Linked DNA regions of Homo sapiens. The protein of the gene in region 1 purifies or fractionates together with the protein of each later gene. This does not show direct contact. Each region holds a gene or a part of one and is shown on either strand. Other genes may lie near its edges.

Region 1 (3,500 bases):
TCCAGGTGGGTGCAGTAAGGGCCCTGGAGTAGTTTATGCACATGTGTTCCTTGCCTGGGAGATCAGGGGTTTTACACAGTCCGACTCATGAGATTGATGCCCAGTTAGACTTCTCTTGAAGACTACTCTGCGATCTAAGTGCTCAGACCTGCTGGGCAAGTGACCTTCTGTTTTTACTTGAAGAAAAGATCAGTGTGATTATTCTATAAACTGGTCCAGTTTGGGGCCCCACAACTTGAACAAAGAGAAAAACTTGGAGCAAGATCAGAGAAAACATCTAAAATGATTAATAAAAGGTTGAAAAAGAGTATTTATGAAAAAATAAAATGGAGGAGGCTGTGAAATGTAAGATGCTATAGATGCTTGAAGTGCTGTCATAGAAATATTTATTGATTGTGTGATCTCTATGCTGACAGTAAAAATCATGTCGCCCCTTTCTCAAGATAATCATATGACTTCTGATTATACTTAGAATAGAATCCATCTTCTTACCCTAATTTGCGAAGTTCTGCATGACATATGCCTTCTGCCCACCTTGCTAAACTTCGTTTTACTTTGCACATCCTATCATCCTGCGTTAGGATGACCAGCTCTCCCAATTTGTTCAGGATTGAGAGCCTTCTAAGGATGTAGGACTTTAAACTTTAAAGCTAGGACTGTTCCAGGCAAACTGAGATATGTGGTTTCCCTATCCTCCAGACATGGATCATCTTTGTTACTTTCAGCATCTCCTCTTCAGGCATATCTCTGCCTGAAATATTTTCCTGCCAAGTGTAATCTTAGGACCACATCTGAAATCTGTGTTATGTATGGGTTTAGTTATTTTATTTGTTATTTCCCAATAATGATAGCCTTTGCAAAAACCATCCATCAGAAAGAGGACATACCTTAACCATGGAGCCCTTGGTACTTTCCTCTTCATACCACAGTATGGCTTGTGATTCCAAGGAAAAAGTTGTGTAATAACCTTACAAGCAGCTTCAGTTCCTTCCTGGTAAACCTGTGGTCCGTGGAACATGTGTTTTGATCCAGCAGTTCCTCTGCCACCTGGAATCTTGAGATAAGTGTGTGGGTCAGTGTGCATGTGTGCCCATACATGCTTATGAGGAGGTCAGTGTGTGAGGGGAATCAGGAAGTCTCTTTTTTATTTTTAAATGAAATCAAGTAAAACTTAACCTTGGCTTCAAAAATATCTCTCAAATACTGTAAACAATACCTTTGATACTTTTTAGAAAGAGATTATGGCCAGGCGTAGTGGCTCACGTCTGTAATCCCAGAACTTTGGGAGGCCGAGGTGGGCAGACCACCTGAACTCAGGAATTTGAGACCATCCTGGGCAACATGGTGAAACCCATCTCTACTAAATACCAAAAAAAAAAAAAAATTTAGCCAGGCATGGTGGTTCGTGCCTGCAGTCCCAGCTACTCAGGAGGCTGTGGGATGAGAATCGCTTGAGCCCCAGAGGCAGAGGTTGCAGTGAGCCCATATCGCACCACTGCACTCCAGCCTGGGCAACAGAGCAAGACTCTATCTCAAAAAAAGAAAAATAAAGAGATTACTATAATTTTATCATAGATTGCCTGGTTATAGCAAAGACAGAAAATCAGTAAATCAAGATTTAATGAAGTTTTAGAAATATTTAGCTTCAATTATGATTGGTGACCTAAGTTCTCAATCTTGACAATATTAACACTAAGCCTAGGCCTGATTAGATATTGAGATACAAAACCTTTCCAACATCTCAGCCACTTTTAAAGACCATCAAGGAGTCAATTGTTCCAATCCACTGGATAAAGATATAATTTACATTTTACTTATATAATTGAAATATTATTCCAAACAATACTAAGTTTCTTGCTCAAGATAGCACAGTTTGTTAAAGCTAAAAAATACTTATATATGCAAAAAACACTTGTCACATATTATCACTGTCAATGATATAGTGATCTTTAATTAAAGGAGGACATAAATCTAGAATTTAAACAAAATCTTCTAACCAGCATAGTTTCAGTTCATATTTAAAAATCTGTGCCTTTATGCCACAATGATGGCATCAAGTTTTTACTCTTTAAGAAACATAGTGATAATGTCTCAAACTTGACCCTGTTTATTTGATCATGAGTTAGTACACCAAAAATAATGATGGGAAATTAGAAAAAATGGAATCCTGAGAAACACTACATTGAATTATTGTGTGTGCTATTTTACAACATGGCAGCTTAAATAGTTTTAAAAAACTAGTGATGTCTTTGAATATGAATCTACTACTATGTCCCAAGGTAACATCTCAAAGGTTATTTTGTTTAGTTTTAAGAAAATGACTTCTATATTCTTCCCCACTCCTCCTATTCACATCACTGGAGATACAAATACTGCTTATCCAGCCATGATAATCTATAAAACATTTATTTTTTATCTTCCAATTCATCCAGTTTTTCTGAAGCTTATTGATTGGGGTGTAAAGCTGGTGACTAATATCAAAGATATACTGTAAACCATTTTGATTACAAATAGTTAACATCCAGGATAGTATATATGATTGTTACTTAAAATTAAAATTATCTTAGCAAGGATGAAAATCCCTTAGTAAAAAATAAATATGTATTAGTTCAGCTAACCCTATTCAATTAGATCATTAATTAATTTTCCAGTTGATTTTGAATTTAATGTTGGAAACATAAAATATTGGAGTGGAGGGATCTCTTTTTCATCATCCAGCCTGGCATTTGTTTTTCTGGAGAAGATACTGTATATTGGGTTACCAGCGGAAACATCAGTATGACTGGGGTCTCTAGATTCCTAGTCCAGTTTTCTCTCTTCCATACAACAGTGACATATACTTGGTCTTCTTCCATTTTTCTCTTGTTGGTCCAAGCATATTTTTACATGTTTTAAAATGTTTTCTGCCAGGCACATTGCAAGCAACCCGTGCCTTGATGGTGGTTGGCATCCTCCTGGGAGTGATAGCAATCTTTGTGGCCACCGTTGGCATGAAGTGTATGAAGTGCTTGGAAGACGATGAGGTGCAGAAGATGAGGATGGCTGTCATTGGGGGTGCGATATTTCTTCTTGCAGGTAATAGAGGCTGTGCCCCCCTTTCACCTTACTAACCTGTTCCTGGTATGATTTGAAATCTATTACGTTGGATTCATTATACTTGATTTCAGTCTCTAAGGCAAACTGCAAACATAGACCTGAAGTCCAGTTGACTTTCATGTTCTCAAACACAAACTAAATGAAAATGTGAGAGCTCTGCTCACATCTGACAGGTCTATTGGTTGAAGTTTCAAGTGGCAACTGGTTTGTTAGAACCAGTCTCTTCCAGTGAAGAAAGTTGTTCACTATTTAGCAAACGCTAAGGAGGAAGTTCATGTAATTCAGATAATTCCTATGGTGTCTCCACAGATACTATGTGGAAAAGATGGGGAGTAGTGAGAGAAAACACAAGAATATGTGAACCCTTCAGGTCTGTGAGGGATGGAAGGATTGGGATTATTGGA
Region 2 (3,500 bases), on another chromosome or scaffold:
GAAATTTTCCAGGCACAATACTGTATCTCGCTCTGGAGTTCTCAGCACACCCTGCCTCACTTTCTCCTGGCTCCAAGTGAGTTCCTGCCTTACTTGATGTGGTGAGGGCTGGGGCAGACTGAGCAATGTTGCTCAGAGTCTGGTCTGTAGGCTAGACTTTAAGTATTTAAAGGAGAATAAGCATTTAGAAATTGTAATGGCAATTTGACATTCCCATGGCATTTTTATTATATACTAGAAAAGTGCTAATCTGCAACAGATTGGGAATAAAAAGAAATACACAAAAACAGGTCCTTTGCCACACAGGTAGCCTGAGAAGTACTGGGCTAGATCATGAAAGACTCCTAAGAAGTACAAATTTGAGCCTGAACATGGTAAGAAACTTTTGAGTTATGTTTAAGCAGGGAGGAACATGATTAGATATGCACTTTAAATATCACCACAATAACAAACAAAATAATTAACTCATTACTCAATTTATTTCCAGAGTACCAAATTGAAAGAATACTAGCCTCTATTTTTTTTTGTGTGGGGTGGAGAGGTCGGTATTGTTGCAAAAAAAGTGCTTTAAATAGACTTCTGGGGGAAGCTAATGTGGATGTTCTGCAAATATTTCCTTCACCAGAAGAAAGAATAAGCATAGTAAAGAGTGTTACATGTTTATAAAGCAGTAGCAGTATTGTACTTGGAAAACTGATTCTTTCTCGGAAGGCAAATTCCATTACCCATAGGGTATAGGCCAAGTCACTTTCTGGAAATAAAGAGCATATTTGATAATTAATAAAATTATTGCTTTGTGAACAAGCCACTTAATTCCTTCTTTAAAAAAAATTTTCTGAATACGCTAAAACACCCCAGTAAATCATAGATGTAATACCTTTGCATCGGGTTTATCCTTATCTTCAAACAAACCAAGCTCTTCTGGGCCAAGAGAAAATAAAGTTCATATGGAACCAAAAAAGAGCCCGCATCGCCAAGTCAATCCTAAGCCAAAAGAACAAAGCTGGAGGCATCACACTACCTGACTTCAAACTATACTACAAGGGTACAGTAACCAAAACAGCATGGTACTGGTACCAAAACAGAGATATAGATCAATGCAACAGAACAGAGCCCTCACAAATAATGCCACATATCTACAACTATCTGATCTTTGACAAACCTGAGAAAAACAAGCAATGGGGAAAGGATTCCCTATTTAATAAATGGTGCTGGGAAAACTGGCTAGCCATATGTAGAAAGCTGAAACTGGATCCCTTCCTTACACCTTATACAAAAATCAATTCAAGATGGATTAAAGACTTAAACGTTAGACCTAAAACCATAAAAACCCTAGAAGAAAACCTAGGCATTACCATTCAGGACATACGCATGGGTAAGGACTTCATGTCTAAAACACCAAAAGCAATGGCAACCAAAGACAAAATTGACAAATGGGATCTAATTAAACTAAAGAGCTTCTGCACAGCAAAAGAAACTACCATCAGAGTGAACAGGCAACCTACAAAATGGGAGAAAATTTTCGCAACCTACTCATCTGACAAAAGGGCTAATATCCAGAATCTACAATGAACTCAAACAAATTTACAAGAAAAAAACAAACAACCCCATCAAAAAGTGGGCGAAGGACATGAACAGACACTTCTCAAAAGAAGACATTTATGCAGCCAAAAAACACATGAAAAAATGCTCATCATCACTGGCCATCAGAGAAATGCAAATCAAAACCACAATGAGATACCACCTCACACCAGTTAGAATGGCAATCATTAAAAAGTCAGGAAACAACAGGTGCTGGAGAGGATGTGGAGAAATAGGAACACTTTTACACTGTTGGTGGGACTGTAGTTCAACCATTGTGGAAGTCAGTGTGGCGATTCCTCAGGGATCTAGAACTAGAAATACCATTTGACCCAGCCATCCCATTACTGGGTATATACCCAAAGGACTATAAATCATGCTGCTATAAAGACACATGCACACGTATGTTTATTGTGGCATTATTCACAATAGCAAAGACTTGGAACCAACCCAAATGTCCAACAATGATAGACTGGATTAAGAAACTGTGGCACATATACACCATGGAATACTATGCAGCCATAAAAAATGATGAGTTCATGTCCTTTGTAGGGACATGGATGAAATTGGAAATCATCATTCTCAGTAAACTATCGCAAGAACAAAAAACCAAACACCACATATTCTCACTCGTAGGTGGGAATTGAACAATGAGAACACATGGACACAGGAAGGGGAACATCACACTCTGGGGACTGTTGTGGGTTGGGGGGAGGGGGGAGGGATAGCATTGGGAGGTATACCTAATGCTAGATGATGAGTTAGTGGGTGCAGCGCACCAGCATGGCACATGTATACATATGTAACTAACCTGCACATTGTGCACATGTACCCTAAAACTTAAAGTATAATAATAATAATAATAAAAATACCTTTGCATCGGGTTTATCCTTATCTTCAAACAAACCAAGCTCTTCTGGGCCAAGAGAAAATAGAGCTTCTAAAGAAAAAGGTAGAATCAGAGATGCAAATGACATCATTTCATTTTAAAAAATTGTTTTAGAAAGCCAAGACCACCTTTAAGTAAAATCAAGTAGATTCAGAAATATGATTGTGGCAATATTTATACCTTACTCTATACACTTTACTTTCTTGTAACATTTTTAACCAGTGACTCTAAGAAAATAGTGTCATGCTAAGGCTTCAGCATTTCCTAATTCTAGGAAAGGAAAATAATCTTTATGCATAAAACTAAAAACAGTAACATCAGAAATCTTTCATGGCTTCCCACTGTCTATGGCATCAGGTCCCAAAAGCCCAAGAATCTCAGGAAATACAGTAGTGTTGCAGTTTTCCTGCCACATGTAAGGCTAACAAACATCCTTTCGTGGGAAGGATCCTCTTTTACTCTGAGATGCCCTTTTTTTTGGTGTGAAAATGTCTTTTCCGTGTTGAAGGTAATAACAGATGGCAGTGGTCTTATCTGGAAAAAGAAGTTGGCAACCCCATGCGAGTCTCCAGAATTTCTTTATCACCCAACATCTAGGTGATGTGCCACCCAATGGGGCATACCTGAATCTTTTGAGAAGTCTGTATCCGAGCCTAGGTAGGAACTCTTACTGGGAAACTCTGATATACTCTAGGGATACAAGGAATGGGATAAATGTGTCTCCCTATTGAAAAACTATTGCTACCCTAGTGCTTACTGTTAATGAATGTTATATTCTTTCTAAGTGCTGGGACTCGGCAAAAATGAACTACAAATCTACAAGTTAAAGCATAAAACCATACAAAAACTTTTATAATAATCTCCCAGTACTCTCAGCTACATTGTAATGGAGTACAATGGAACCCAATGTAGCCCTATTATTTAAAATACTATTCCAAAATTTCCCCCGCCAGTTCTCTGACAGTCCTTATTCTTTCCAAATTATACCTCCCTGTCAGTCACCATCAGGATTCAGGCTAAGCTATACAAG

What was found. Proteins that work in one complex are often made in the same cells at the same time.
Region 2: the proteins of CLDN1 (region 1) and USP40 purify together in Homo sapiens (affinity purification with western blotting; one study listed by BioGRID). This does not show direct contact.

The regions. Positions count from the first base shown.
Region 1 is NC_000003.12:190,312,447-190,315,946, reverse strand, and holds part of CLDN1 (claudin-1), read left to right. Parts: intron 1-887; exon of another isoform or gene 888-1,054; intron 1,055-2,910; coding exon 2,911-3,075; intron 3,076-3,500.
Region 2 is NC_000002.12:233,560,283-233,563,782, forward strand, and holds part of USP40 (ubiquitin carboxyl-terminal hydrolase 40), read right to left. Parts: intron 2,522-3,500; coding exon 2,454-2,521; intron 985-2,453; exon of another isoform or gene 878-984; intron 752-877; coding exon of another isoform or gene 722-751; exon of another isoform or gene 461-721; intron 1-460. UniProt on the Homo sapiens protein: May be catalytically inactive.